4 linked regions of the Homo sapiens genome follow. The protein of the gene in region 4 purifies or fractionates together with the protein of the main gene of each other region. This does not show direct contact. Each region holds a gene or a part of one and is shown on either strand. Other genes may lie near its edges.

What was found.
Region 1: the proteins of VTI1A (region 4) and STX7 purify together in Homo sapiens (affinity purification with mass spectrometry; 4 studies listed by BioGRID and IntAct, with this or other methods). This does not show direct contact.
Region 2: the proteins of VTI1A (region 4) and STX6 purify together in Homo sapiens (affinity purification with mass spectrometry; 5 studies listed by BioGRID and IntAct, with this or other methods). This does not show direct contact.
Region 3: the proteins of VTI1A (region 4) and VAMP4 purify together in Homo sapiens (affinity purification with mass spectrometry; 5 studies listed by BioGRID and IntAct, with this or other methods). This does not show direct contact.

The regions. Positions count from the first base shown.
Region 1 is NC_000006.12:132,510,010-132,517,751, forward strand, and holds the start of STX7 (syntaxin-7), read right to left. Parts: upstream 3,108-7,742; 5' UTR 2,998-3,107; intron 2,775-2,997; exon of another isoform or gene 2,518-2,774; intron 1-2,517. UniProt on the Homo sapiens protein: May be involved in protein trafficking from the plasma membrane to the early endosome (EE) as well as in homotypic fusion of endocytic organelles. Mediates the endocytic trafficking from early endosomes to late endosomes and lysosomes.
Region 2 is NC_000001.11:180,984,719-180,992,346, forward strand, and holds part of STX6 (syntaxin-6), read right to left. Parts: intron 5,392-7,628; coding exon 5,266-5,391; intron 3,628-5,265; coding exon 3,521-3,627; intron 54-3,520; coding exon 1-53. UniProt on the Homo sapiens protein: SNARE promoting movement of transport vesicles to target membranes. Targets endosomes to the trans-Golgi network, and may therefore function in retrograde trafficking.
Region 3 is NC_000001.11:171,738,573-171,747,007, reverse strand, and holds the start of VAMP4 (vesicle-associated membrane protein 4), read left to right. Parts: upstream 1-4,942; 5' UTR 4,943-5,098; intron 5,099-8,435. UniProt on the Homo sapiens protein: Involved in the pathway that functions to remove an inhibitor (probably synaptotagmin-4) of calcium-triggered exocytosis during the maturation of secretory granules.
Region 4 is NC_000010.11:112,449,881-112,457,508, forward strand, and holds part of VTI1A (vesicle transport through interaction with t-SNAREs homolog 1A), read left to right. Parts: exon of another isoform or gene 1-846; intron 847-7,628. UniProt on the Homo sapiens protein: V-SNARE that mediates vesicle transport pathways through interactions with t-SNAREs on the target membrane. These interactions are proposed to mediate aspects of the specificity of vesicle trafficking and to promote fusion of the lipid bilayers.

The sequences.
Region 1 (7,742 bases), on a different chromosome or scaffold from region 4:
CCTGTACTAACAGACTAGCCACTAACTAAATGGGCTGTTAAAATTATAGTGGTTACTAGAAGCAGAGAAGGATGGCGGGAAGGGGATAGCCAAAGGTTGGTTAACTAACACCAAAATACAGCTAGGTAGGAGGAATGAAGTCTAGTGTTCTATACCCCTAAAAGGTGACTACAATTAATTACAATTTATTGCATATTTTCAAATACTTAGAAGAAAGAATGAATTGTGAATGCTCTTAACACAAAGAAATGTTAAATGTTTGAGGTAATGGATATGCTAATTACCCTGATTTGATCATTACACATTGTACACATCTACTGATGTATCACATGTATCCACAAATATGTAAATCATTATCTGTCGATTAAAATAATAAAAGCAAAAAAATCTTATTACAGGTTATTTTAAGCTGCTAACAAGATAACTGATTGCAGTAAGAAACTACACTTTTACTCTACATTTCATTTTTTCATGTGACAATTTACACCATTTTATATTGTGTATCACTTAAATTACATTGTAGCTCTCGTTTTTAAAAAATTAAAATTAATTAAAATTAAGTTAAATGAAAAAAATCAGTTCCTCAGTCACACTAGACACCTTTCAAATGTTCAAAAATTCTGTGTGGCTAGTGGCCAGCAGCTTGGACAGCTCATTCATAGACCACTTCCATTATCACAGAAAGATCTATTGCACAGTGCTAATCTCCACATTGCAATAATCATCTTTCTATGAAGATATACAAACACTATAAAGAGAAAAACAGGAAGGGAGAATCAAAGTGCAACACTCAGATGAGAGTCTTCTCAAGACGGCTTCTAAAGAACACAAAGGAATGAACAAAAGGAATGTTAAAATTTAATCTTGAAGTGTCAAACACTACTCCCAGTTAAAATCCGATATACTGTAGAATCCTTAAGATTTCCATTTAGCATATATCTCATGCTCTATAAATCTACCCTGGGCAAAGAAGTAGTCAATTTCACTTTCTTAATCATTAGCATCAGCATAAACAACTGGACTTCTCTATACCCTCTACCCCAAGTAAGTTCTGAGGGGTGGGGGGTGAGCATTTTTTTGTCTGTTTTGTGGACTGCACTATTCTCACTGCCTGGCTACATCACAAGTGCTTAACAAACATTTGTAGAATGAATGAATGTACCCACCTCCTAAGAACACACACCCAGCGTGAGGGTAAATATTACCATTTCCAAAACATAAAATTCCAGTGCCTTCTTTCAGATACCGAAGGTCCCAGGCTTCTTGCTGCCTTGGGCCTTTGCTGGGTGCCATTTCCTATTTCTAGAAGGCTCTTCCCATGATCTCCACGTGACTGGCTCCTTCTCCCCAGCAAGGCCTCATCACATGCTAGAGAAACCTTTGTGACCACTCTGATATGAAAGTGAGAACTCACCACTGGTCACTCTTTGTCAATCTAACTTACTGCTTCACAATACTCAAAAGTCGAATTAATCACTGTTTATTATTTATCCCTACACCTCTGGAATACAAACAGGAGCTACTTCTGGAATATAAACAGGAGAGAGATGACCTTGTCATCCTGTGTAATCTACAGTGCCTGGTGCATAGTAAATGCTCAAGGAATGTGAGGGTGCTCTGTCTACATAAGTATCCTCTGCAAAAACTACATTAACTGTATTCTTTGGCCTTAGCTCTTTCATCACTGACCTTTTGTACTACTTGGTTTTAGTTCACAATACCGAGGATTGTTTTTTTCATACTTTCACACATGAAACTTGCAAATTAAATGGAATCACAGCAAACTTCACTCAGACTTACTGTGAATATTTTCTATAATTTACTTTTCAATCATCAGCACTTAAAGTTTGGGGTCATAACCAAAATAAGGATTGATTTTGTTATCAAGAGCAACATAAGTAACATATCTGAGGAAAAATTATGATGTTAATCAGTTAATATGGTATCATATTAACCTCTACAGAAACTGTGAAGTTAAGAGCATAATTCTTAACTAGTCACGAGTCTGAGGCCAACTTCTCAAAGTAGCCTATAAGGCCTGTCCACAACACAAAACACAGTTTAACACCGTTATCAGCCTCTGCCCAGGTGTGCTCAGAGAACCTGCAGAAGAAATGTCCACTTCCAACATTATTAAATAGCACAGCATTTCATAATTACTTTCTTTTCTTCCAGATTCTGGGCAAGTTTTATATATTATATATAATTATAGTCAGAATACAACGATCTGAGGTAAACAAAAATTAACGTATACAGATAAGAGCCAAACAAATGTAAGAAATTTGTGGGAAAAAACACACAGCATTTGATCAGAAATGCAACTTTTTTTCTTTGTCTGAATTTAAAGAAAGTAACTAGAAAACAAGGTGGAGGAAATACTAGAAATATTTTATGTACGTTTAAAGGTTTTTATGTAAATTAATTAAAGGTGTATACTCAAAGAATGTCAAAGTATGTTAAAGTCATCAAGCCAAATTAAAAAAACAATACTACGATCCTCTGAATAAATAAACATACACGGTTCGCCTGCTACAGCCATACATTTTTCAGTTCCTCTATATTCGGGAAGTTTAGTGTGTTTTTCAATCCGTGAGTTGAAAAGAGGAAGAGGTCATTTGGTCGTGTCTGGATTCCTGAGCTGGGCCCCAGCCGGCTCTGGCGCCCTCCCCGGGGTGCGCTCCGCCAGCCGTGCGCCTCCGGAGCTCTGCCCAGGGGACCGCGGCGGGTGCGTGGCTGGGTAGGCCCACCTGACCACAGCCGCGCGCACCCGGAATGCGGAACGCGCCGCGCCCTTGCACCCGGCCGGGGGGCGTGGGGAGCCGCAGGCGCTCCGGGAGCTGGGGCAGTCCCGCCCTTCCTAGCCTCCCGAGTGCCTGCTGCAGAGCGCAGGGCGGCGGCCACCTGACCACGCGCACAAACAAGAAGGCGCAGCAGCCGCAGGGGCACCGCGCCTCCCTGTCGCCCGGCCAGGGAGCCCCCTCCCCAGGGTCCTCTTACCTGGACCTCCACGGCTCCCTCCTACACCTCCGACCGCCGTCACCCACCTACCCCGGAGCCCTCAGCTGCAATTCTCAGCTGATGGGCGGTGGCGTGGGGACGCCCAGTGCGCATGCCCGCAGCACAACTCAGGAAGAAGGCGGGGTTCACCCCTTTTCTATTGGCCCGCGGGGCTGAGTGACAGCGGCCCTCACCGCCCCTCCGGTTCCAAGCTAAGGAATGGGGGTATCAGCAAAATTGCAAGGGAGCTGTTCTTTGAAGCCTGACGTAGAGATGGTGAACGCCTCTTAGCCTGCGTGCAAAAAAGGACAGAATGGAGGACAGTTGTCTTCTTTATCTGGTGAAGCCAGCCTTCTTGCACGCGGGTCTTCACCCCGCCCCATTAGCTCTTGCCTGTCTTGTTTGCTAACCTTTAACTGCAGTAGATCGCGTTGACAGCTCTATCGAAAAATGCAAAGGCGAGTACACAATCCTAGCAGGAACAATGAAGGAATAAGTGAAGAGTCATCTCTGGGTGCTCACTTGTAAACAAGTTTTCCTAGTACATACAAGTCATTCTAAGCATTCCTGAAAAGCAGGGCGTAGTTTTCACAGGGTTTAAAACAAGCAGAGACAGTTCCAATGATAAATATGCAAATATATTGTAATTGTTAGATGAAAAGCATCAATTGCTACAAATGAAAGAAAGCCCTCTCCAAATTAATTAGAAGATAGATTGGCTTAGCCTTTGCCTATATTAAGGCAACACTATTTTCTAAAATGATTACCCGGATAGGTGATATCAAAAGTCCAGACGCACTTAGGTGGAAAAAAACAAAACCCAGGATAGAATTCTGATTGGAACTCACCAACACTAAGTGTGGAATGTTGTCTGCTTAAGAGAGATGGACAGAGAAAGAATAACCCTGAAAACGAGTAACCCACAAGATAGGAAATAAACCAGGAAAAGGTAAACTAGAGAATGAAGGAAAAAAGGAGGGAATTGTCCATGATGTCACCTGTTACACAAAGTTCAAGTAAATAAAGAACTGAAAGTAGTGCATTGTACTTGAGAATTAGGAAGTGGCTGGTGAACGTAGGAAGAAACATTTCAATCATTGAAGGAACACATGAAAGGATCTTACATCCATGTGAGGTTTAGTGCACTTTCCAAATACCCATTCATATTACCTTTGATAGAACTCTGGGCTCCGGGGAGGGAAGGTACAATGCACTACAGAAGAACCTGAGATTAAGTGGCCTCTTCAAGTTACCCTGATAGTTACTGACTATGCTGGGCCCAAAACTTAGCTGTCTGAGCCCTCATCTTGGGCTCATTCCAATTCCTTGTTTTAAAATATGTTATGAGTGGATTCCTTCCAGGTCTTTTGAAAACTTAGAATAAGATTTCATCCTTTGGTATTCAAATGGGAAAAAAAAGAATTATAGTCTAGACAAACTTGCAAAATTTAGAAGTATTAAGATAAATGAATTACTAAGAGTTCCTGACACAGTATTCCATCTGTGAATCTGGCTGCTACCAAGTTAAATTCAGCCAGGTGTCTTGAAAGTGGTAGGGCTTTAAAAGTCTCCTAATTTGATGAGTGATAATGTCACATCTCCCAAAATAAATCATTTCCATGTGCAGAAGTTACCTATGACTGAAAGCTTGTAATTTGGATTTTCAGAAATAGTAATTTGCGAGATTTGGGCCTTCTTGGAGAGATTTTGAAGGAAACCAGAAGTTGTTGAGTGGGGAATGTTATCTGCACACTTGTGGTGTCCTTATTAATATAAATACCATAAATACCTCCTATGTAACATCTCTCATGTAGGATGGAGAACTGTCCACTGCTGTATCTCCAGTGTCTGGGATAGCAATTCCAGGGAATAGAAGGAGATAATTGCTGGTTCATTTAATAGTTACTGAACTAAAAATATTTTTTACATGACCACTATGTGATCTTCTGGGAAAGCCAAAGAAGTAAAAGACGCATAAAGGTAAATAGAGCAAACAGGGACTTATTGGTAAGTGAGAAGGACAAGTTGACTTATGAAGGTTTGTTTTTATTTATAATACAGTGGGAAAACCACAACTGGTTTAAAAAATCTATGCTAGATTAAAAGGAAGCTTAAATTAATACTTAATAAACAAGAGTTAGTTCAGTTGTGCCTTATTGTTAAGCACCTTCCATGTCTCTCTACAGTCTACTTGTTTTCTGTTTAAGATCACACAAGTGCCTAGTCATATATCAAGCACAGAATTGATTTTGCCCTAGCTTTTGAACATGGAGGTAATAAACAGATATCCCGTGGAAATCTTACATGGGCCATTATAGCATGATGACCGGTATATTTGTTTCTAATTTTACCTCCTGATGACTGGTATTTTCGTTTCTAATTTTACCTCCTAAGTGTTGTTCATATGTGCCCTCTTCTCTCTGTCCCTCACGGTTGACATCCTGATCCACTGCAATAGCCTCCTTGTTGGATCTTCTATCTCCAGGTCTTCTCAACTTTATTATTGTCAAAGCCACCACTGAATATTTGAAGCTCTAATCTGAGAACTTTGCTCCAGGCTTCATGCCATTTCCATGATTGCAGCATTCCCTGAACTGTATTTCTTAAGAAAAAAAACCAAAATAATTAGATTGGGGAGAGCTGGGGAATTGTGTGGGTTGAAATAAGGAATCAGGGAATTGGTCTACAAAGAAATGTTTGGGAAACATATTATATTGCATTCTTGAAGATTCACAGAGCATATTTGTAAATTAAAGACGCTGAGAAGTGGTTCAGGAAAGAAACAAGTAAAAATTTCTTTTACCCAGTATTTTATGAGTGTATTTGATGGTGGAACTTGCCTGTAAAACTTTTAAATATGCATAATGGAAAACACTGCTCTCAAAATCAAGTCCAAGCCCCCTGCATATACACAGGGTGACCATATATTTAGTTTGCTAGGACAGCCCTAGTTTATGCTTGTTGTCCTGGCCGCCTGTCTTCTGAGCATGCCCTTTCATTCTCAAACGTGCTTCAGTTCAGATGATGCATCATATGGTCCCTATACATATAAGGACCACATGGTCTGATCCTGCCTTTCCAAGCATCAAAATTTATGCTTGGAATATGTTGGCTTAAATAACTCCTCTTTCTCTGTCTGCTCTCCCCTCCATCCCAGCAGCTAGCTCCCCAGTCACAAACCAGGGGTTTTCTTATTTCTGTGCTTCGCTCACGTAGTTCCCATTAGCTAGAAAACATTTTTTCTTCTCCCCCATGTTTTAAACGATTCTTTATTTTGGAATAATTTTAGATTTATAGAAGAGCTGCAAAGATAGTACAGCACTCCTGTATATACCTCACCCAGGTTCCCCTAATGTTTCCTTAATGTTAACATCTTACATAACCATGGTCCACTTGTCAAAACTAAGAAATCAGCATTGGTATAGCAGTACCAACTAAATTAGCTTGTATTCTCCCTGCTCCAGCTCTAGAATCAGTCATTTTACTATTAAGCACTTCTTCTTTTTATTGGAAAAAGCTATTTAGAAATCAAAGGCCAGGACCACCAGGCACAGTAGCATGGCTCACACCTGTAAACCCAGCACTTTGGAAGGCGAAGGCAGGCAGATCATTTGAGCCCAGAAGTTCGAGGCCAGCCTAGGCAATGGGGCAAAACCCTGTTGTGATGGTTAATACTGAGTGTCAACTTGATTGGATTGAAGGATGCAAAGTATTGATCTTGGGTGTGTCTGTGAAGATGTCGCCAACAGAGATTAACATTTGAGTCAGTGGGCTGGAGAACACAGGCCCACCCTTAATCTGGTGGGCACCATCTAATCAGCTGCCAGCAAATATAAAGCAGGCAGAAAAATGTGAAAAGGCTAGACTAGCCTAGCCTCCCACCCTATATCTTTCTCCCGTGCTGAACGCTTCCTGCCCCTGAGCATCCAAGTTCTTCAGTTTTGGAACTCGGACTGGCTCTCCTTGCTCCTTAGCCTGCAGACAGCCTATGGGACCTTGTGATCATGTGAGTTCATACTTAATAAACTCATATATATATATATATATATATATATATATATATATATATATATATATATGTATTCCATTAATTCTGTTCCACTAGAGAACCTTGGCTATTACACCCATCTCTACAAAAATTAGCTGGGTGTGGTGATGTGCACAGTAGCTATAGTCCCAGCTACTCAGGAGGCTGAGGTGGGAGGATTGCCTGAGCCCAAGAGGTCAAGGCTGCAGTGAGCCAAGATCATGCCACTGCACTGCAGTGTGGACAACAGAGTGAGACCCTGTCCCCCACCCTACCAAAAAGAAGAAAAGAAAAGAAATCAAGATCAAGGCACTAACCTTCTCATTGTTACTAGGGTGTCAGTGCTTCTACGCTCCCCTCAATGGACAGAGCTAGGAAATAAATTTATATATACTAATTCATGTATGTAGGATATTTACTCCAGGCTTCATGCCATCCCCATGTTGGCTGCATGCCCCAAAATATATTTGGTAAAAATAAAAGTGCTTGGACTGGGCAGAGGTGGGGTTTGTGTGAGTTGGGGTAAGGAATCAGGGAATTGATCCATAGAGAAATGTATACAGTATACATTATATGCAGTATAAGCCTTGTATAAAGTATGTCTATAAATTTAATTTTACAAGAAACTGCCAAGTTGTTTTCCAGTTGTTTTACATATCCATAGCTATATCAGATTTTATCTATATATATAAACACGAGTTCATCTAGGCATTCCCAA
Region 2 (7,628 bases), on a different chromosome or scaffold from region 4:
TGTCCAGCCGGGACTGAGTGCTCTCCAATTCGTGAGAGAAATCTTCCAACATACTAGAGAGAAGCAGACACAGAAGGTCGCTGGTAAGCACAAAGCCTTGGCAGTGCACTTGCACTGGGTTAAAAGGACCAGGCCTCCATTTTAGCAAACAAAATAGGCAACACTGGGTTTCAGGACCTCACTCTGTTATCCAAAATCCTTGGGACAAGATAGGATTTTGATTTTGGAATTCTCAGGATTAAAAAAAGCCTAAATTACATATCCTTTGTATTAGTCGACACCACTAGGAGGACACCACCAGGAGGGTCTGGGGCAGTCCCCGTAATCAGATACTTAATATTTCTGCAGAGAAAACTATGAGGAATCACAGTTGGAGTCAGTTCAGGTAAGGTTTTTCTGTAACATGAGCTTGCGGCAAATTTAAAGAAAAAAAAAACAACGAGATTTCTTTAGAGCTTCCTAGATTTCAGAACTGCAAGACTATAGACCTGTCTATACAATAACACAAACTCAGTGGCAGTGCAATGTGGTAGAAACAATGCTATCTGAGGCAGACAACCAGGCTTTGCCACTTGTTTACATTGCTACCTTCGACAACATACTCTATAACTCTTTGGGACTGTTTCCTCACCTGTAAAATAGGGCAATCCTATCAGCTCAACTTCCCTCACAGGGCTCTTGTGAGAACCAGGTAATAAACAAAAGCACTTTATGTCAATATGAGTTAAGGAATGTACTTTAATAAAATAACCTCCTATAAGGCACTACGTGCTTTATTATAAACCCAGAAGGCCTCAGGACTAACATCCCTGATGGGGTGTGTGACAGTGTGTCTGTGCATGCACACGCGCATTTCCCCATCTGTCCTCACAGAGAAACCAGTATTTCCCACTAGGAAAACTGACTCCAGCAGGCTTACACTATTTGCTGTCCAATGTGCAGCTGGGAAAGAAAACCCCAAAATACTATTTCAGCAGTGCCTATTTCATAAGTCACTAAATATTCCAGACTTTTCAACTTTTGATTAGTAAATGATTATTCTGAGGCTAGAATGTAATATGCCAATTAGTACTAACAGTCTTACTAAAAAGGCTGTATTAACTCTGACAGCATCAATGGCAGTTAGAAACTCCTGGTCTTGATCTGTGCCCACAATAGACACCTGACAGCCTTGCAGGATTCAGGGCAACCAACTCTTCATTAAATCAACTGTTACATATATGTTGACAACTAAAATAAGTCTTTGTCCCTTACCTAAATTTTCAAATTAAAAAATATTTAACTCATTTTAGATCCTGGCAGCATCTTGGCGCTGCAGCTGGCAGGCCTATCCAGGCAGGGCCAAACTCTAAAAAGCAAGAGCTACCTTTCTGCGCTAGGTATGACTTTTCATACTGAAGACAAAACAGGCACATCATCAGGCACATCATCCGACCTTCAGTCCATGGACACTCACCAACCAAGTTGCTAGCCCAAATCTATCTCAGTACCATCCAACAAAAATATGAGTCACATATGCCATTTTACATTTTCTAGTAGCCATGTTTGTAAAAATTTCAAAAGAAACAGGTGAAATTAATTCTGTTGTATTTAGTTTAATATAGCCAAAATACTGTAATTTCAACATGTAATATAAAAATTATTAATAAGCTATTTTATATTTTTCTATATGAAGTCTTCAAAATCCAGTAAGCATTTTACCTCTGGAGCACATCTCAATTCAGACTGGCCACATAACACTTACTCAACAGCCACATGTGGCTAGTAGCTATTATACTGGATGGCACAGGTCTAAGTCCAAATCCCATGCTTTTTCCCATTTATCTGTTATTTCTATTTTTTTAGAGACAGGGTCTCCTCTGTCACCCAGGTTGGAGTACAGTGGTGCCATCATAGCTCACTGCAGCCTCAAACACCTGGGCTCAAACAATCCTCCCACCTCAGCCTCCTTCCCTAGTACTTGGGACTACAGGTGTGAACCACCATGCCCAGCGGTTTCATGCCCTTAAAAACAAACCCCTTTACTATTGTTCTAGTGAGCTGTGGAGAGGGAGTGGAGGTAGGGGTGTGTCAATGCACCATCTTTAACTGGAAGTCCCTCTGACTCTATTACCCACTGCCCAGCCAGGCTGCCTCATCAACAGAGAAGCTCAGGCCATTAGTCCTTTCCCCTCCTCAAACTGAACTTTAGGGTCAGGACCCATTTTAGATAGACATGAAACAGATTCTGGCTACTCCAGCTTCCTACCTGGTCTCCCTACCTGACTCCACTGCAGCACATCATCTAAATCACACCTGATCACACCATCACTCCTCACCTCACCTCCACTGGTCTCTCATTATGCTGAGAATAAGTAGTCGTACCTCCTTACCATGCTGACAAGGCCTTCCCTGGTTTGTTCTCTGCCTCCAGACACATGGAACCTCTCTGCTCCATGCACGTGTGCACCTCTCCATCTTCACAGGTGCATTTTCTTCCTCCTGGTCTACACACCCCACACCACCTGCCTCCACACCAACTCTCACCTCACCTGGCTAGCATCCACACATCCTTCAGATTTCAGTTAAACCCCTCTTCCTCAGGGACCTTGGGCTAAGTCAGGGCTCTCCAGGCAGCATGCACTGGCCCCATCACAGGGGCCCTCCCACTTCACTGCCATCACCTAATGACCCCTCGCCACTTACCCAATATCCGTTCTACCCTGCAAGCGGCAAACTCTTTGGCAGAGATGGGTTGTCTTGTCTGCTCTGTTCCCTTCTATATCCCTTGGCTTCCAGAAGGCCCGGTGTAGAACACGGGCCCACTAAGAATTCATAATCAATCAATGTGTCATGATAAACGTAATATCGAGACAGGAAAGTTTCTGAAATATCCTGGTGGACTGTTTTTTCATTTTTCTCTTTCAAAAGATTTACAAAATGATGTGGCAGCATTTAAGAATGCAGTTTTTGCCATCGAACTTCTGGGTGCAAAAGGGATTGTTCATAAGGAAAAACAAACTGAGGTTATGTTTTGTTTTTATTTATTTTTCTGAGAGGAAAGAGTTTTTATTAACTGGCGTTAAATTTGTAAGTTTTTTTTAAAAAAAAAAAACAAAGTTACAATAATTTAAGATTCAAAGCAAAACGTGTCTGTTCAATATAGCAGGAGAGTCATGGGATGATAAAGTCAGCTCATGTCCTATCCTCTCTGGAACAAAAATTCCCACAGGTTACAGAGGCTTCTCTGTTTCATATTCCCATTCATAACTATACTTCGAGTATCTGCTCAGAGACATCTGTGTCTGTTTTTGGAGGTGTTTAAAAATAATAACAACTTCACCTAAAGCCTGTAGTAAAATTTACGAAGTAGAATTGCTTCTTTTGGGGAGGCTAATCTGTAAAACAGAATAAAAATGCAGCTATGAATAAAATAGCTTTTGATTTTACCAGCCACGTAGCTGCCAGGCTTTTTAGGGGTGTCATAGGATGGCTCTGCCCCTCAATTTCACTGAAGCGAGAGGGGTGTCTCAATACTCACACTGCCTGTTCCTCCAGCTCCCCTCCGATGCGCTGGGACATGTTCTTCAGCACCCCGATGCTGCCAGAGACCAGCTCCAACTGCTCATCCTGCTGTTCCACGATCAACTGGTGCCAGAGAAATGGGAAATAAGCAATTAAAATCCATCTTACCTGGTTCCAAGCCCAGCACTCTAGCAGCTGCTAGTTTCTTTGCCAACTTGGGACAATTCACATTCAGAAGCAAAGCCCAGAAATCAAAGGACCAGACCGTTGCCTCTGAGAACACACTGCTCAAAAGGCTGGATTGTTAAGCTACTGATATCTCCTGCTGATCCAACTTGTGAACAGTCAGCGGGGCTTGAAACCACCAAGAGAGATTTACTCTGGTTGGCTGACGTCCAATAATGGAGCAGACAATGGTTGAAAGCACACGTGCAGATGACCATTGAGACATGGGGATGTTTGGGAGGAGGAAGCCCATTGCCAAGATCAAGGTCTCAATCCACAACAGACTGCCACAGCTTAAATACAAGAGAGTCTGGCAAATCTCTGGATGTGGGGAAACTATGCAGTCTTTCCTCTCTCTTCAAGGACAAACGAAAGGATTCCCTGTGGCAATAAGTTACCTCAAGGACAACTACTGACTGACAAATATTTACTTTTAGTTGTGTTGCATTCTTCTCACTTTCTATAGAAAAAAAATTTCCTGGGTTTAATAGCAATTTAAGTAGACAACTGGTTAAGCAGACATACTAATGTAAAGAACAAAAGAACATATAAACTACATGTATACATAAAACACAATATTTAAGAATCAATAGTTTCAATGGGTACATGCTCCTCAAATCCCCAGACACATTATCATTAGCTTGCTTTTATTAATACAGCTACATATCAAAGGCATCAACAGACATAATCAATTTCATTTTCCTTCTACCCCTTAACCTACACAAAAGCAGTCATCTTTACATATAACAAAACCAACCAATAGGCCGGGCGCGGTGGCTCATGCCTGTAATCCTAGTACTTTGGGAGGCTGAGTCAGGTGGATTGCCTGAGCTCAAGAGTTCGAGACCAGCCTGAGAAACAAGGTGAAACCCCGTCTCTACTAAAATACAAAAAAAAAATTAGCTGGGCGTGGTGGCGTGCACCTGTAGTCCCAGCTACTCAGGAGGCTGAGGCAGGAGAACTGCTTGAACTCGGGAGGCGGAGGTTGCCGTGAGCCGAGATGGTGCCACTGCACTCCAGCCTGGGTGACAGAGTGAGACTCCGTCTCACAAAAAAAAAAAAAAAAAAGAAACCAATCAATAATTTTCGAAGAAAAAAATGAGAGATCTTTCTGAAAGTGTCTTTGCTGAGATGGACAAAGGTCTGTTTTTTCTAAGAGAACTAACTGAGCTTGGTTCTTTATTTTTTTAGAGAAAGGGTCTTGCTCTGTCACCCAGGCTAGAATGCAATGGCATGATCGAAGCTCACTGTAGCCTTGAACTCCTGGGCTCAAGGATCCTCCAGCCTCAGCCTCCTCAGTAGCTAGGACTAAAGGTGTGAGCCACCACGCCTGGCTGAGCTTGGTTCTCTTGAAGCAGTCACACTGTGAAGATTTTGAAACCCTTTACATATGCAATTATTAAACACAATCAACACAGGACAAGCTCTGGCTTACCCTCCTTGTCACTAAGCCACAAGACCCCATGGCTGGCAAAGGAACTAAGGGGGTGTCTTGTTTCCCACTGGCCCGTCCTAAGTCTGGGGTCCTTGGGGTACCTGCTGCTGTGCCTGCTGCTCCTCAATGAAATGAGAATTGGCTCTCTGGAGCTCTCGGTCCAGACGCCCATATTTATCTGTTGTTCCAGTGCTCCAGTTCTGGCTGCCACTGTCTCCCAGCAGTGCCTGTGTGAGAAGAACAACCAGAGGAGTCAGGAGAAACAAACAATTACTATCTCTGAACAAGTGATGCATCAAGAGTGATATAAAGAGTTTTCACATTTCTTGTCTATTTTCCCCTGGGCAAGGCTTTTATGTAGTGGTGTAGGTTGGTGCCTGGGTGGTACTATTTAAGGAATTCCAGGAAGGGCCCTCTATGTCTTTAAGCTCTCCCAATAGGCCTCACAATGGGCTTTGTCCCCTTAAAGTGCAAATAAACGTCTGCTAAATCAACAAACACCCATCTATATACTGTGTTATAATTGAAAAGCATTCAATCTCTTGTAAAAGAGCTCTTCCTGGTACCTGTGGAACTTCAGCAACCCATAGGTTCCAGTCAACCTGATTCCGAAGATCTAGAGTACTTTTTTAAAAAAAGTGTGACCCAGGGGAAGTTGTGGGTTTTTTTGGTGGGGGGAAAGGGAGAGTTCCCTGGAATGACAAGAAGGTAAGCCATAGCCCTTCACACACAAAGGCACAAGAACCATCAATGTCTGTTAAGTTTAACCCATGAATAGAATCCAGGGTCCTTCAGGCTTTCCAGATGACAACTGGGGGTTACTTTACAGGCAGGTATGACCACAAGGAATGCCTGACCCTGGCAACCGAGGCAAGGGCTGCCCTAAAGTCAGAGTTCTCCACCAGGGCTCCCAGACACAAGGGTCGGGTTTCCCAAGTATGAATTCAAGGAAGTTTGCAGCCATAAATGGGTATGTCTTCCTCACATGAAGAAGACAGGCAGGAATGTGAGAGTTCCATCTCAGCAGTTGGTTCTGACCAGATCCCCACAAGCCTTCCTGACTGGTCAAAGTAACTGCTCACACCAGCCCCGCAGGCAAGAGCCAGAAGACGCTAGCAACTAAGACTCTTTTTCCTTGTAGAGTTGCCAAATTTTCCTATCGGGTAATTTAAAAAAAATCTCAGGCACTATTAAAAGCCTGCCTGGTTACTTGGTTCTGTCTGAAAACCCTTCCAACAGCCCCATGACCTTCCTCCATACTGACACTGACCTCTTCTCAGACTGCGAGGGGTGAACTCCATCAAATGGCCAGACTTCAGGGGCTAGGATCAGGGAAGCTCAGTTATTAGAAGCTTTTCTTACAAGAGCTTCCAGGGGCCCAGAGCTTCAGTCCAGCTGGATGGTGACTGTCTCTGGTGTAAAGCAGATCCAAGGCTTTTTGTGGGTGGCTCTGCCCTGACCTGGTCTTAGGGCTATCAAGACTGAAAAGATCCTGCTCATTATGATCCACACTCTAAGGACCTCTATGGAAGACATGAGGAAATAGTGACAATTTTTTTAGGGTCAGAAAAATGCTATAATGCATCACTGGCCTAAGGACAGAGAACTGGGACACCACCAGGGCCTTGTGTGCTCCTGAGGTCACAGGGCTATTTTTCCTACGTTTTCCATGGTGTACACTTAGGTAGAGCTAAGTATAGGGCAAATCATCCACGTTTTATTGTGAAATAGCTTAAAGTTCATCAGTCTGATCCCAAATGTTTGTGATAATAGGATAGAGATTGAGAGAGGGCCCAAGGACTGGAAGATGCACCTGTGTGTGGGTGCCAGAGCAGGGGTGCTGGTGAGGCAAGGAGCAGCACAGAGCCTGGCACCTGGCACAACGTGGCAAGGCCCATGCCTGCTGGAGTGCTTAGAGAGCCCTGATCCTGCTATTCCTTGAAAATTTGCAACTTGACATTTCACTCATAGCCTAAAACAAAATTCCAAGCCATAACTAGATAGGCAATATATAAATACATACATGTATATATACTTTATATAAAATATATTTAAATTTATATATATATATTTATAAATATATAAATATAAATTTTATTTACGTTAGCCCAACTATACTATCTAGAGAATAAAACATTCAAATTAAGAGTAACAGCATAGGTGTTACTGACCTCACTGTCACAACTACTTCAGTTACTTCCACTTCCTATAAGCTCAAGTGCAAATGAGAAGAGAACTCCAAAACTAGCCAACTTGAGGGCATTCACTAGCTTCTTTCAAGAGAGGGAGCCAGATGGAATGGACCAGCTAGTGGCTTTTCCTAGCTATATTGCTCAAAAAGAAAGCAAAGGAGGCAAATAAGATTAAAAAGCCAAAAACAAAACAATGACTTGAAAAATGGAATGCAAGAAAAGGAAACAGGAAAATTAAGTTAGGTGATATTTATAGAACCCTGCCCCTTCTT
Region 3 (8,435 bases), on a different chromosome or scaffold from region 4:
CTAATATCATATTTATATAACACCAAGGCACTCTAAGCATGAAAAGCTTATGGTTAACTACATGATATCTGTATACTTCTTCTCCAAACTAATTGAGTTACATGCTTACAAGAGTCAATTTGCATTTGTACTCCAAAGTATTTATGCCTATTATACTTATAGAATATATTTAAATATGTAAACTAATGAAATACAAATAGAAAGTTATTTTCTATAAAAACTAAATTGATAAACATGAACAACAAACAAAAATTACTATAGAACTAGGCACAGGTAAGACAAACCTGTAAAACTTTGGAGAAAAAATTGTACAAAAATCTAGACTGACTGGGCATTCAAATTGCTTGAAAGGTGTCTTTAACTTCTTATTCCACTTTGAAGAAAATGAAACTGTAAACTGTAAACAATGCAACTTGTAACAAAGACAAAGCAGGTGTTCCAACCAGCAAATTCATGCTCAGATAAAAGGTCTTGGGCCTACTACCAAGACTGGTGAGTGAACATATACATTTGAGTCAAAATAAAATGACTAAAGTATATATTTGCCATTTTTAAATATGTACCACTGTAACTGACTTTTTAAATTAACTGGTCCAGTGGTCCCAATTTTAGGGGAAGAGAGTGCCTCTACCATTGTTTTAATTGAAAAACTGATATACATGGTAAAGATATTCCAATAGTACAAAACACTACACATCAAGAAAGTTTCCCTTCTGTATTAGTCTTCTAGGGCTGCTATAATGAAATACCATGGACTAGGTGGCTTAACTACAGAAATTTATTTTCTCACAGTCCTAGAGGCTAAAAGTCCAGGATCAAGGAGTCATCAGGGTTGGCTTATGGTGTGGCCTCTCTTTCTGGACTGCAAATGGCCATCTTCTGTGTTCTCATATGGCCTCTTCTCTGTGCCCATGCACTCAGACACTAGCCCTACAGGATTAGGGTTTTGCCTTTTTGATTTCATTTAACCTTAATTATTGTCCTAAAGGCCCTATCTCCAAATCTAGTCACACTGGAAGTTAAGACTTCAACATATGAATTTTGAGGGGACATAATTCAGTCCATAACACTTTCCATGCCAGATTCACAGTCCTCCTGGTGTGTGTGTGTGTGTGTGTGTGTGTGTGTGTGTGATGCTCAAATGGAAGTAGAGTCTACACACTATTTTGCACCTTACTTTTCTCACCTTATAGCATCATAGAGGTATTCCATGTCAGCACATATAGATCTATCTAGTTCATTTTAATGGCTGCATACTATTCTATTGAATGGCTAGACTATGACTCATTTCAGCAATTTCCTATTGCTGAACATTTAGAGTTTTTTTTTTCACTCTGTTACAAAAATCCTGTAACAGATATTTTTATAGAATACTTTTATATACAACCTGTATACCCATGGGATAAATTTTAGAAGTAAAATTATTAGATCAAAAAGAACTTCATATAAAATTTTGATACATATAATTACCATGAAATTTTTAAAAATGCACCAATTTTTATACTCTTACTGTTTAAGAATGCTTGTTCCTCCCACGCTGCTCCCATACCACACATACACACACCCAATATTGTAGTATCAAATTTTTTTTATTTTTGCTATTGAGCTAACACAAAAGATCAAACTGTCAAATCAGGCTCAAATCAGAGATTTTACTCAGTATCAAGCTTTACTAATAGTTTCAAGGATACCAGTAATCCCCAGGTCCTTTCTTCTTGCTTTGGATGCATCCTGGCCCAGGACAGTAGATGTGGTTTCTAAATCAAGTGTACAGTCACCCCACTTACACAGAAGGAGCCAAATCAGTTACAAAACACTTCCATTTTATGCTACGTTACATAACTTCCGCGGTATTTTCCAGTTAATCATACCCCTGAAATCCGCATTGATTCTTTTTTGTTTTGTGAGAGGGAGTCTCATTCTGTTGACCAGGATGGAGGGCGGTGGCGCGATCTCTGCTCACTGCAACCTCCGCATCTCCAGTGCAAGCTATTCTTCTGCCTCAGCCTCCTGAGTAGCTGGTGTTACAAGTGTACACCACCACACTCAGCTAATTTTTGTAGTTTTGGTAGAGACGGGGTTTTGCCATGTTGGCCAGGCTGGTAACTCCTGACCTCAAGTGATCCACCTGCCTCAGCCTCCCAAAGTGCTGGAATTACCACATCGATTCTTAATGTGTTTACCATAAACAATCCCAGCCCTGGGACATCCTGTTAGAGGAATTCCGTAAATATGGACTCTCTTGCTAGCAAATGCCATTAGTTTGTTTGCCAGGAGGTCTGTAATTAGTATATACTTTATATTTTATAAAAATCACATGCTTTTTTGCTTGCTTTAACCTTGCTTTCCTGAGAGTATTTCCCTACGAAGGGAGAGACTGGATTGCAGATCTTCTGCTCAACTCCTTCTTTCTCAGTCACTGATAGATGAAAAATGGTATTTCCTTGTTCACTTTTACATTTTAAGTAATGTTGAACATTTAGCAACAAAATATTGAAAGCTAGAAGGGAGATGAATCAAGATGCAATTGCCTTAGCAGACTTGAAAAGTAGGAATCCCAAGCAGGCCATGAAGCAACCTGATACACACAGTGAAACCCTGTATAAGGCTCAGGAATTGGAAACACCACGTAAAGCTGAAGAGAGCATGATGTGAGCTATAAATACAGGCGGAATGGTATAAAGTCTGTTTAAGAATGAATCAGATGCTGAGATTCCCTTTGCTATCCCATCAAAAACCCAGAGATTTAGTCCTGAAAGACAGCAAAACGCTGATTCTCTAGCTAGGAGGACAGCAGGCCCTCTTAAGGATGAAGGTGTCATGTTGAAAAAGGGGAAAAGAAAATTAGAGGACTAACATCTGAATAACTGAAGCTCACTAAAAAGAAAATGGAGGAAATAAGTAACTCAAGTTGCTTGGAGTTCTGACTCTAAGCTCAGTGCTATTATAATCTTTTAGGCTTACTGGTATATTTGATTCATGTTAACTGTAAAATGACATTTTCTAAGTTTCACAAATATTGGGGTTAGTCAAAGGGACTTTGTTCAGGTGATTAAGGGTGGGGCTTGCATTACCCCTCTCCTAAGCGATCATTCCAAAATGACTGGCAGGACTAAAGAATTATGTTTAAAAAACAAAAAAACCCAAAGAATGGATTATCTGTAAAAGCTATGCAATGACGTGCCTGTTAGAGCTCACTGACCACACCTTAAGTTGTCTAAGAGATGAGGCTATAACTAGCTAAACTCTAATTGGCTAAGGCACCAAAGCCAGAAAATAGCCCATAACATGCAAATATACAGACATAAAATCAACTGTAAGTGCTGGGCACAGCTGCTCATGCCTGTAATCCCAGCTACTTGGGAGGCAGAGGCAGGAAGATCACTTTAGCTCAGGAGTTCAGAGCTGCTGTGCGCTATGATTGTGTCACTGCACTCCAGCCTGGGGGAAGAAGTGAGACTTCATCTCAAAAAAAAAAAAAAGATCAGCTGTAGAAGAAAAAATAATGTCAGGGTTACCTGTGGAGTCTGGGGGTAGACCCACTATCACACCTAGACAGGGATACAAACCATGAGAGGCTTCTCTTCTAAGTGGGCCGTTTCAGTCCAAGTTGCTGACTTGGACAGCAACTTGGACTGAATAAACACAGGCAACTGAGTTTAGCATTAAGCTTTCAGAACCTTCAACTGACAACTCAACGGCTGTTTCTAAATCTCAGAACATTTAAATCAGAATCTAGGTAGCACGTGGGCACCTACGTAGTTTTAAAAGCTTTCCAAGTGATTCAACTCCAAGTGAATCAGAGTGGAGCATCGTTGCCTTAGTCATGGCATCTTTCAAATTCGTTAGTACATTTTTACATAAAAATAAACATCAAACAAAAGAAGAACAACTTTTTGGTAAGAGGGTGTCTATTCTTTCCTTTCCTTTAGTGTCCGCAGATCTTTCCTCCTGCTGTTTTCTTGTCTACTCTTGTTCTTGAACACCCCCTCTTATTTTTATGTCTTTAGAAAGTGCCTGGCACAGTATTTCAGACAGTTAAAATACTGTATCAACAAAGGACCCATAGATACTGTATTAATTTTAAAAGATGTGTAGTGAATATGATTCAATGAGTAAAATAATCCAGCTGGGGCGTGGGAGGAACGGATAATAAAACAAATAAGAGAACGGAAAAACAAAATTAGGAATTGTTTCTGGTAGACAGCTACTGCGGGCGTGGAGATCTAAACATGATACCAAATTGGGCGGAGGGGGAGGGAGTGAGGAAGGAATGGGCAGAGTGGCGGAATGGCCTGGCGAGGGCGATTTCCTGAAGGCTTTCAGGTTACAACTAAGGGATACCGGGAAAAGAACACCGAGCCCTCGTCCCGTATCTATCTAAACTAGCCGTGTTAACTTTAAGTCAATCTCCTCTCTGAACCAGATATTCCTCCTATCTAAAGGGAGGAGCCTGGCCTTAACATCTCTTTCCAAGTCTAGCTCTAATTCTGTAAACAGGGGATCAAACAGATCTCCTTTCTTCAGAAAAGGCCCCAGACGAACCCGAAGCAGGTCCTCGAGCTGCGAGCCACTCTCCACTTGCCACTCAACGTAGTCAGCCAGAGGGACGGATGTGCCACCAAGCACCACCTTCTTTCTAACGCCTCATCACCCCAGCCACGCACTCCGGCGCGGCGCCCAGTCCCGAGCGGTTCTCGGAAGTTTCCCACTCCTCCCCTAATCGCCCTCCACGCACGCCGGATCACGACCGGAACGTGGACAACCAGTGGTTGTTCCTCCCCTAAAGCACAGCATAAATTTGGAGAGATGCATCTAAACTGCGTGTGGGTTCGGGCTCTTTTAGGTGAATAGGGCTCGGCGGATCGACTTCCTCGATTATCTCCGTGCCCTGGACCCGCCCCCTCCGCCTGGCGCCAGGCCGCCGAGCGCCGATCGGCTCGATGAGCGGAGGCGCTGCTGCGGCGCTGCGGCCGACGCCGGGTCCGCACCAACTGTCTCCCCCTCCCAGCTTCTTACCTCGGCTTCCTACTCCTTCCCCCGCCCGCCCAGCACCGCCAGCCCGGGAGAGCTGCCGGGAGTTCCCCGGGAGCCTCAGGTACTGGCGCTGGCCTGTTCGCAGCGGGAGGGGCTGGTGTGAGGAGGAAGGAAACGAAGAAGACGCCCCTGCCTTGCCGCCCCCCGACGTCCTAGTCGGGCTGGTCGGCGGGCCTCGGGGATCTAGGAAGGGACCCCGGAGTGGGAAAAGGTTGGGGCCGGGGGTGCCGTGAGGAAGGAAGACGAGGACAGGGGTATGCGGACGAGGAGCAGTTGAGGGAGAGAAGAATTGGAATTGAGGGGTACTCTGGGGTGATGGGAAGAGAACAGTACCATGGATGGGGAAGGTTTGTTAAGAGTGGGATGTAGTGAGGAATTCCAGGGGGTACAATGGGGCAGGAAGGGCCAGCGTTAGGAGCAGATATATCGTGGGACGTGGCCTGGTGTGACAGATTGGGTGTGGGGGGTGAACGGAGCTGCCTGAAATTGTGTATTTAAAGGGCCCGGGGGAAAGAGCGCCAACCCTGCTGTGTTTATAATGACCGGAAGGTGGGGGTGAATCGTTACACTTGACAGGTTTTGCAAATAATATCTCCGGTCTGTGTCCATCCAAGTCACTTTATTTCTGTGAAACTGCATCAAGCAAGAAGGCTGATGACAGACAAGGAAGACGAATCAGAAAGAGAATGGAGGCTGGGAAAAGGAGAGCCTTTGCCCAGATTCAAAGCTATTGACTAGATAACGTACTACTTACAAAAACGCACACATAGACATTTAAGTATATGCTGATGTATAAGAAGCATACGGTGATGTGACTCATTTGAGTGAATTGTATAGTGGTGGTCTATCCTCAATGTGGAAGTACATGATGGCTCTCTTATTTACATGTATACCTAGTCACAAACAGCTGAATTCACATGTCTTTTTTTGTAGGAGAAATCTTAGGCAGACTATATCCTAGTCTACTTTCTGAGCATGATTTATTTCTACTAGTTGTTTGATACACATATCAGTTACTAATAATCAGTTGCAAATAACATCAAAGTTCATCAAGGTAGCTAATTAATCTGCCTACTGCTTTGCTGATGGGCTATTTGTTGCACATGGTTTCTTGGGATTAAGAGACCTGAATATGGTGTTTGCTCATCCTTAAGATTGTAGTTTTACTGTATGTCTTATAAAGGCATTATATAAGTCTGCCCGTTGTTTGCTTTGGGATGTTGAGGCAGCCTCATTGCAGGGGTTAAAATCTAAATACAGATAATAGTTAAAAGCACAAGTTCTTCAGTAATTTGCCTTGTCATCTGTTTTTCCATGCATTCTGTTACATTTCTGCATGAATGAAGTATTCTGACATCAAAGTATGAGGAATAAAAGGGCCAGATGTATGTGACAGAAATATTGTGGAACCAAGAACTCAAGAGCTGTTACTCAGGCAGCAAGAATTTGGTTTTTGTTACAAGTGAATAATTTCTGATTTGGAAGCATTTCTTATCAAAGAAAAGTGTGTCCTTTGGTTTTGACAAGCAGCTGACTTAAAACATTACTTTTATTTGGTTCGTGAAGCCAGATCCTGGGATTATTCTTTTTTAAGTGTATATCATTAACAAACAAACTGATGTCTAACTATACCTAATTTAAAGGTCTAAGTGTTTCTTCTTATGGAAAAGGAAGCAGGACTATTGGGTTGTTAGCAGGAAGTGAGTCTTTCTAGAACAGAATTCTGTAAACCTGATGGGCAACTAATTGAACAAATGATTAAAACTGATAATGCACAGCCATTGATTAATTTAGGCCTGTATCTCTGCTGTTTCAATGAATGTAGTGACTAACGTTATCGTTACTAAACTTTAGTTTTCTCCTAGTTTCTTGGTGCCTACTTTAAAGAAGCATCATAAAGAGTAAAAGAAAATGCATGTGTATCACTGAGCACCGTGCCTAGCACATAGTAAAACATTCAGTATTTCTGAGCTATCCTGAATTGATGGGTATTCATCTACCATCTAGTCAAAAATACTGAAAATTCATTATTTGCATAGAAGAACTTTTTCGCAAAAAAAAATTTTAGTATGTTGCATACACAAGCATTTTCCTGGAAAGTCACAATGCATATTAGCATATAACAGGATGTGAGTCATTCTGTAGCAAAGAAAACTAGCTTTGTTTAATCCAGTTGTTTTGATAGAAAAAAATTGAGTTTCTCCTATTCTCTCTCAACACAGACCCCCAAAAGATTTCTCCTCACAAGCAAGGAGGAAATTCTGCAGCAGATTCTCCAGCTGGGTGTCCTCTAATTCAATTCTGATACTGTATACCTAGAGATAGCATCAGATCCTGCAGGTTGAGGGCTTAATCCTACAAGATTCCCCCCACTTCAGGTGCCAATCACAAGTTCCAGGTTGTTTTACCTGTGTTTCCAACTGACTGGCTATAAATCAGAGTTCCCACAATCCCTTCCTTGTGTTCAGTTTATTTGCTAGAGTGGCTTACAGAATTAAGAGAAACACTTTGTTTACTGGTTTATTATAAAGGATAGAGATCAACAGCCAGATGGAAGAGGTGCATAGGGCAAGGGGTACAGAGCTTCTGTGCCCTCTCCAGGTGTGCCACCGTCCAGGAACTCTCTACTTGTTCAGCTTTTGGGAAGCTCTCTGAACCCTGTCCTTTTTGGGTTTTATGGAGTCTTCCTTAGTAGGCATGATTGATTACATCATTGGCTATTAGAAATCAGTTCAACCTTGAGCCCTCCTCCCCTTCCAGGAAGCTAGGGGGTGGGGCTGTAAAGTCCCAGTCTTCTAATCATGCCTAGGTTTTTCTGTGACCAGCCTCCATCTGGAATCTATCTGGGGGCTAAGCTACCAGTCATCTTATTAGCATACACAAGACACATCACTGCAGCGATTCCAAGGATATGTCAGGAAATGGGGATTAAGACCAAATGAGTATATTTTGTAAATCACGATATCACACCAGTACTTACCAAACTTACCCCTTTTCATGGAGTACCAATGGGACATTATAGTTTGCAGAATATTTTTGCATGTATTATCCAATTTGACCGTCCCAACTCTGCAGAAGCCTGAAAATCAGTATTTTACACCTGAGGAAACTGAATCATTGCTTAAGCAACCAACTAAAAGTGAGAGAAATAGGCATGTTCTCCTGTCTTCTGACTCCAACTTTAAATTGTAAAGCATTTAATGTCTCAGTGAGACGTCCTCCCTCTACTCTCTGCTCTTTCATTTTATAAAAATCTTAAATCACTCATATCCTACACATGTTCTCTTAGGGCAATTACATCCATTTTCTCATAATTTTAACTATTTCTTAGGTGTTGAGGTCTAGCATGGAGGCCCCAGTCACTGGAGTGGAACAAGTGAGAGGGCAGGAATTGAAGT
Region 4 (7,628 bases):
TTGTATTATTGAATAATCATAATTCTTTTTTCTTTATGAGATGGGGTCTTGCTGTATCGCCCACGTTGGAGTGTAATGGCGCAATCTCAGCTCATTGCAACCTCTCCCTCACGGCTCAAGTCTACTCCCACCTCAGCCTCCCGAGTAGCTGGGACTACTCAAGCCACTGTGCCCGGCTGATTTTTTTTTTTTGTAGAGATGGGGTTTTGCCATGTTGCCCAGGCTTGTCTCAAACTCCTGGGCTCACGCAATCCACCCACTTGGGCCTCCCAAAGTGCTGGGATTACAGGCGTGAGCCACCGCACCTGGCCTGATCATAATTCTTAAAAACGCAGTAGTTGCCCTCTTAATAATGACTTGTGCTTGCCCCTTTTTAAATCTATTTCCAATTGATGTATAGAAAAAGATGAAAAATATATCCATGTAGTTATGAATTTCAGATGTATGTCTGTAGATGAACAGACATTAATATATATAACCATGGCAAAAATAGTTTGATGACAAGTAATTATAATCTCTCTCTCTGGCCATCATTGGCGAGTGCAGTGTTGAGCTAAAAGTGACCCAGAGGAGGTGAACTATAATTTACTTGAGTTAAGAAGGATAAAAATTGGAGCAAACTTTCCAGCCAAAGCAGTTAATTCCCCCAACATAGTAACTTACTTAAATTCAAGTAGAGTGGGTAGATCTATTGAAATGAACTTTACTCTGCTGTGCATGTTACAATGTATTAAAGTATTGCTTCCAAAGAGAACAGAAGAGTGAACATTTAAAAATTTTATTTTAAGAAAGAAATCTGATTACTCTGTGATATTTTTTAAACAATAAAGAGATTTTGCTCTTAAAGTGTTTGAATCTTAACTAATTTTAGTAATTGAACTGAGATGGGTGAGTTCTTTCTTAATACCCTATGGCACTATATTTGAACATTGTTTTTTTAATTATTATGGTTCTGTGGGAAAGTAAGGAAAAGGGATGAGCAGAAACTATACAGTTAGTACTTTATTGTGAAGTTCCTTTTCCTCTAGTGATGGGAGTGAATTCTTAAGTGGGGAATGTTTTCCTCTGGTGCAAAGATTCTGTTACACGAAATAGGCTTCCTGAAGAATTTTAAAGTAGTCTTTTTGCAATTAGTTGCTTACTTTACCATTCACAGAGAGGGAATGATCTGTTGTGAATCCTGTCACTTTATGGCTGTCCTCAGAATTGTACCAAGAAAGTATTACAGCAAAATGATTCAGATTCAGACATGACATCAGATCTGTTTAGAACCCTAGTTCTGCTACTTACTAGATGTGCAGTCATGGACAATTGCTTGGCCTTTCTAGGCCTGTCTCCTCCATCGGTAGAATGGGGGTGAGAGAGTAATAATTTCAACCTTATAATGTAAAAATCAGTGAAATAAAACATGTAACACACTAGCACCCTTCTTACACAGAGAAAACACGTGATATACTAGCCATTAATGATATTACTGCTGCTGCTGAAGACAACAGTTGGTAAGATTAGCTAGGACCCCGCTCTTCAGACTTTGTCATGTTAATTGAACTCTTAAATCTTACACTTCAATTCTTGCTTCCTTTCTGTTCCTAGACTAGAATTAGGTAAATTTCTCTTGATGAACACATTTGAAAGGAGGTAAGTGATTAGGGCCTTTTGGATATGAATTTGGAACTGGGCTTTGAACTCAGGATCCCAAGGGGGGCAGTCGGAGGAGAGAAGTGAAAGTGGTGTCGGACAAGGCAGGTGTCCTTTCTGGAAGGAAATGCCTGAGTCTAGTGGATTGGTTATGCCAAGCCCTGGAGGATTGTCTAGACCATCTAGACTTAGCCACGTGTAGATGAAGGCATAAACATACTTCTGTGATTCTCTCTTGCCTTTGCAAGGTGGTTGCAGTGAGATAATTCAGAAAAGTTGGCTTTTGTTCATGAATATTGTGGTTTGCTTAAAATATATTTGGCTTTAGAGCTGTAATATCTACGTGTAGCTATTGAGCACCTGAAATGTGGCTGTTGCTACATTGTGAAATGATAATATTTTAGATATATGCAATTACGTATTATTGAAATTAAAAACATTATTAAAACTAATTTCACTTGTTTCTCTTAAAAGTTTTTTATTTTTGAAAACTTTAAAAAATACTGCTACAAGAAAATTTAAAATTGCATGTGTGACTTGCATTATATTTCTGTTGCTCTAGAGGGTTACAGTTGAAGGGATGGTTCCAGTCCTGATTCAGGAACTCACTGCTACAATAGTTTGTTCCTTGTTAGGATTCAGGCTACCTCAAAATCTGCTTCATGAGCTGCTGGGCAAGGTCCAGCTTTTTCAATTGAGCATACAGGGAAGATAGTCTTTAGCAGTTACTGATGGCCCAGTTATGTCTCATAAAAAATTTAAGCATTTAGGGCCGGGCGCGGTGGCTCACACTGTAATCTCAGCACTTTGGGAGGCCAAGGCGGGCAGATCACGAGCTCAGGAAATCGAGACCATCCTGGCCAACATGGAGAAACCCCGTCTCTACTAGAAATACAAAAATTAGCTGGGTGTAGTGGCACGTGCCTCTAATCCTAGCTACTCAGGAGGCTGAGGCAGGAGAATTACTTGAACCAGGGAGTCAGAGGTTGCAGTGAGCCAAGATTGCGCCACTGCACTCCAGCCTAGTGACACAGTGAGACTCTGTCTCAAAAAAAAAAAAAAAAATTAAGCTTTTATGGGGTTGTATTCATCTTTGAATAATATACATTCATATAAACAATTGTGTGTGTGTATGCATCTATAGATCTATATATCTGTATGTTGTCTATATATTGGTCAATTTAGTCAACCTAAGTAATGGCTTCAGTCTTTTGTTTTTGTTTTTTTTTTTTAAATAAACTTTTTATTTTAGAACAGTCTGAAATTTACAGAAAAATCACAAAGATAGTACGGAGAATCCCATATACCCCATGCCCAGTTTTCTCTGTGATTAACATCATGTTAATATGGTACATTTGTTACAGCTAGTGAGCCCATATTGATACATTATTATTAACTAAAGGTCATACTTTATTCAGATTTCGTTTTGTTCTGTTTGTTCTTTTTACCTAATGTCCTTTAACTATTCCAGGATCCAATCTGGGACACTGTAAAACATTTAGTACTCATGGATTTTTAGGCCCCTCATGGCTATGACAGTTTCTCAAACTGTCCTTGTTTCTGATGACTTTACAGTTTAGAAGAGTACTGGTCAGATATTTTCTAGAAGGTTCCCTCAACTGGGATTTGCTCAATGTTTTTCTCATGATTAGATTGGAGTTCTGGGTTTTGGGGAGGAGGACCACAGAAGTAAAGCATCATTTTCACCACATACCAAGAATACATACTGTCAACATGACTTATCACTACTGATGTTAACCTTTATCACGTGGCTGAGGTAGTGTTTGCCAGGTTTCTCCACTGTAAAGTTACTGTTTCCCTCCCTTTTCCATACTATTTGGAAGAAAATCATATATGCATAGCCTATACTTAAGGAGTGGAGAGTTACACTCTACCTCCTTGAAGCCAAGTAATTACGTGAATTATTTGTAATTCTTTTATGTAAGAGAGATTTATCTATTCATTTATTTACTTATTCAGTCATTTACATCAGTATGGACTCATAGATACCTATTTTATCCTTTGTGTTATATTCCAATACTACTTTATTTTCATGTTGCTCAAATTGTTTTAGCGTTGACCATTGGGAGCCTTTTTTTTAATTTGGCTTCTGTGTCCTTTTGGTATACCCCCATCATTTTGGCTTTTTTCTTTTCTTTTTTTTAAGGACTATATTGCTTTCTGATAGTATAAGATACTCCAGGATCATCTTCTCTATTTCCTGTTTCAGTGCTAGAATCAGCCCTTTCTCTGAGGAATCCTGTTTCCTTTAATTAAAGAAGGGTATTAGAAACCAAGATCTGGACAGTAGGTGTGCACATTACTCCCGGGGTGTTGTTGCCTCTGGAACCTCTCAGCTGACAAAGCAAGGAAATTCACATGTATATACTAAGCCATGTATATGAACATATCTACAAGCATTTGCATATGTAATCATTTGTATATATAGTATGTTAAACACAAGTTCATACTAGTATCTCCAGCTCTAATCCATTATCAGATGGATCATTCTGTAATTGCTTTATTTCAACACTGACCATTCTATACCATGTTACACAGGGTAGCATCAGTAATATACCCATTTAAAAATTATCTGTTCCTCTCTTAGTGGTTTGACCCTACATTTCTAAGTACATACATAATTTCTGCTGCTAGTTTTATTTTAACATATCTACATTGCACAAAGACAGGTACAAGTAACTGAATTCAAGTGAGCCTTGACACTTTAATGAGGGTGTTCTGTGCTGATTAAGCACTTCTGTAAATATCAAGAATTATACTATGCAAAGACTTGTTTGTACGTCAGCACTAAGAACTTCTATTGAGTAGGAAATGAGAGGCCAAGATGGGAGGATCACTTGAGCCCAGGAGCTCAAGATCAGCCTGGGCAACATAGTGAAGCCCCATCTCTACAAAATAAAATTGAATTTAAAACTAGCTGGGCATAGTGGCACGCACCTGTCATCCCAGCTACTCAGGAGGCTGAGATGGGAGGACACCTTGAACCCAGGAGTTTGAGGTTACAGTGAGCTATGATCATGCCACTGCACTCTAGCCTGGGTGACAGAGCGAGATCTTGTCTCTAAATGAAAAAGAAAACTAATTAAAAATGTATTGAGTAGGAAAGAAAAGATCATACATACTATGCTAAGACTTATGTGTATGTACATCAGCACTTATCAAGCTTATAGACCAAAAAAAAAAAAAAAAGTGGGAGACTGTTTATATATTAAATAGTATATTTTATATAATACATATAGCAGTTACGAGCTCAGTTCAGGACAACAGACCCACCCCATTAGAGTTCCAACTCTGCTATTTATTAGTTGTTGAACTTTCAGGAAATAATTTAGTATCTCTGATCTTATTTAATGGCTTGAGAAAGGGATAGTAATAATACCTCAAAAAGGTTGTTTTAAGGATTGACTATAACAATGTTAAACACAGAGCACCATGTACATTAATGATAGCCCTTAGTTACAAAGGTCTGAATCCTAGGTACATGTTGTTTGAAAGGGGATGTCATTTGGGGTGGGCAGAATGAATCTCTTTTGGGAATTACATGTAAATGTTGCCAGGTTACCAAAACTTCGTGTTGGTAGGTATTTCCAAGGTCATCTAGTTCAGTTCCCTCCCCTTCCCTCCTCCCCTCCTCCCCTCCCCTCCTCCCCTCACCTCCCCCCTCCCCTCCCCTCCCCCCTCCCCTCACCTCCCCTCCCCTCCTCCCCTCCCCTCCCCTCCCCTCCCCTCCCCTCCTCCCCTCCCCTCCCCCTCCCCTCCCCTCCTCCACTCCCCTCCGCTCCTCCTTCCCTCCTTCCCCCCTTCCCCCTTCCCCCTTCCCCCTTCCCTTCTTCCCTTCTTCCCTCCTTCCCTCCTTCCCCCCTTTCCCCCTTCCCCCCTTCCCCCTTCCCTTCTTCCCTCCTTCCCTCCTTCCCTCCTTCCCTCCTTCCCTCCTTCCTTCCTCCCTCCCTCCCTCCTTCTCTCCTTCCTTTGTTCCTTTCCTTCCTTTGTTCCTTCCCTTCACTTCCCTTTCCTTCCTTCCTTCCTTCTCTGCTCCCTCCCTTCCTCCCGCCCTCCTTCTCACCTTGCTTTGTTCTTTCCCTCCTTCCTTTGTTCCTTCCCTCCTTCTCCCCTCCCTCCCTTCCTCCCTTCCTTCCTTCCTTCCTTCCTTCCTCATACTTTACCCCTAAATCATCACTTTTGAGATTTGCCTTCTTAAAAACATGAGGAACACTATAAGGACCAATCAAAGAATGTCTCAGTTCCATCATTATTTCTGACAGCACCATCACAAAATGAATTTTATGAAAAGAAAATGATCTAATTGTGTTAACTCCACCTCTATTCCAATTTAATTATTTTTTTCGTGAAGGGAAATTTGTCATTTCAAATGGGAAGATTTGCCCCAGTCCTCACTAAAATGAGCTGTTTTTCCCCCTCAGTTTCTCTGTGAGTAATAAGTATGTTGCTGCGTGCTAAGACTGACTCATTTATTCTGTAAGCACTTAGTGGCCCCTACCATGTACAGCTCTCTATGCTAAATACAGAGTTTGGACACGATTTGTCAAGAGTAGTCTCTGCCTTCAAGGAGCCGGCAATGAGCCTGAAGAGGAAACTGCAGGCCAGGTGCAGTGGCTCACACCTGTAATCCCAGCACTTTGGGAGGCCGAGGCAGGTGGATCACTTGAGGTCAGGAGTTTGAGATGACCCTGACCAACATGGTGAAACCTCATTCTACTAATATAATACAAAAATTAGCTGTGTGTGGTGGCGCATGCCTGTAGTCCTAGCTACTCGGGAGGCTGCAGCAGGAGAACCACTTGAACCTGGGAGGTGGAGGTTGCCGTGAGCCAAGATTGCACCACTGCACTCCAGGCTGGGTGACAAAGTGAGAGTCCATCTCAAAAAAAAAAAAAAAAAAAAGAGGAAACTGTAGAACCTAATTTTTAATGACCGTTGTACCCCCTAGAGCCGAGCATAGAACTCTAGGAATTCAAAGGAAATGAGGTATGTCTCAGGACCTCGCCTAGAAGGATAGGTGGGGTTTGGACAGACAGAAACAAGCAAAGACTATATTATAAGAGGTTGCAATAAATGGATGCAGTGGGCATCTGTTGCACCCAGCAGCTTTCATTCTATCTACTCAATTTCCTATTGAGGAACTACTTAAACCCCCTTATTCCAGTCTTGATAGAACTGACAGGCTGCCCTGCCCTCTGTAGGTCAAGAGGTGAACATATTACCTAAGCAAGGACATTTATAGAATTTTTGCCAGGAATTTGATCAGAATGAACCAAGGAAAGAGAATAGTTAGAGCCGCTCAAGACTTTGCTTTAGCAGAGACTGTAAGTTCCTATTTCCTTGGTATCCTGAGCTACTCCTCATACTTGTCTTTCCCAAGCTGGGTGGCTCATTTTTGTCCATTGATCCTATGAGCCACCCCACATTATTCTAACAAATTATCTTTTTTGAATTAGTTTAGCCAGAATCACTTCTGTCGCATTCAGCCAAAGAACCCTAAATGGTAGCTTAACAAAGATTTAGAGAAGAAAAAAACAAGATTTGTTTGGGTAGCAATGAACAGTCTGTCTGTAGACTGCATACTAGAAACCTTGTAGTTGGAAATAAAGTTGGAAAGGATGCTCGGCTCTGAAATGTCGAGGACCTTAACTGCTAAGCTCAACTGACCCACCAAAGCCAAATTTTAGGAAGATTAAATGGGAGAGGGGGCAGGGAGACCAAGGTGGTTAGTAGCATAGCTTCTTTTGCAAATTCTTGCTGTGTCCTGCATTATGTATTTAACTTACTTTCATTTTTTGAAAACTGATTGTGTATGCCAAGCTCAGTATAGTGTAGGACTATAAAGATGACTGAGACATGGTTCTTGTCTTCCCAGAGCCTCTAAGTTGAAAGGTTGTTCATGTGAGGGATAAATCATTAGGATTACATAAGAGTTATAGATATTTTATGTACAAGGGGGTGATTAACTC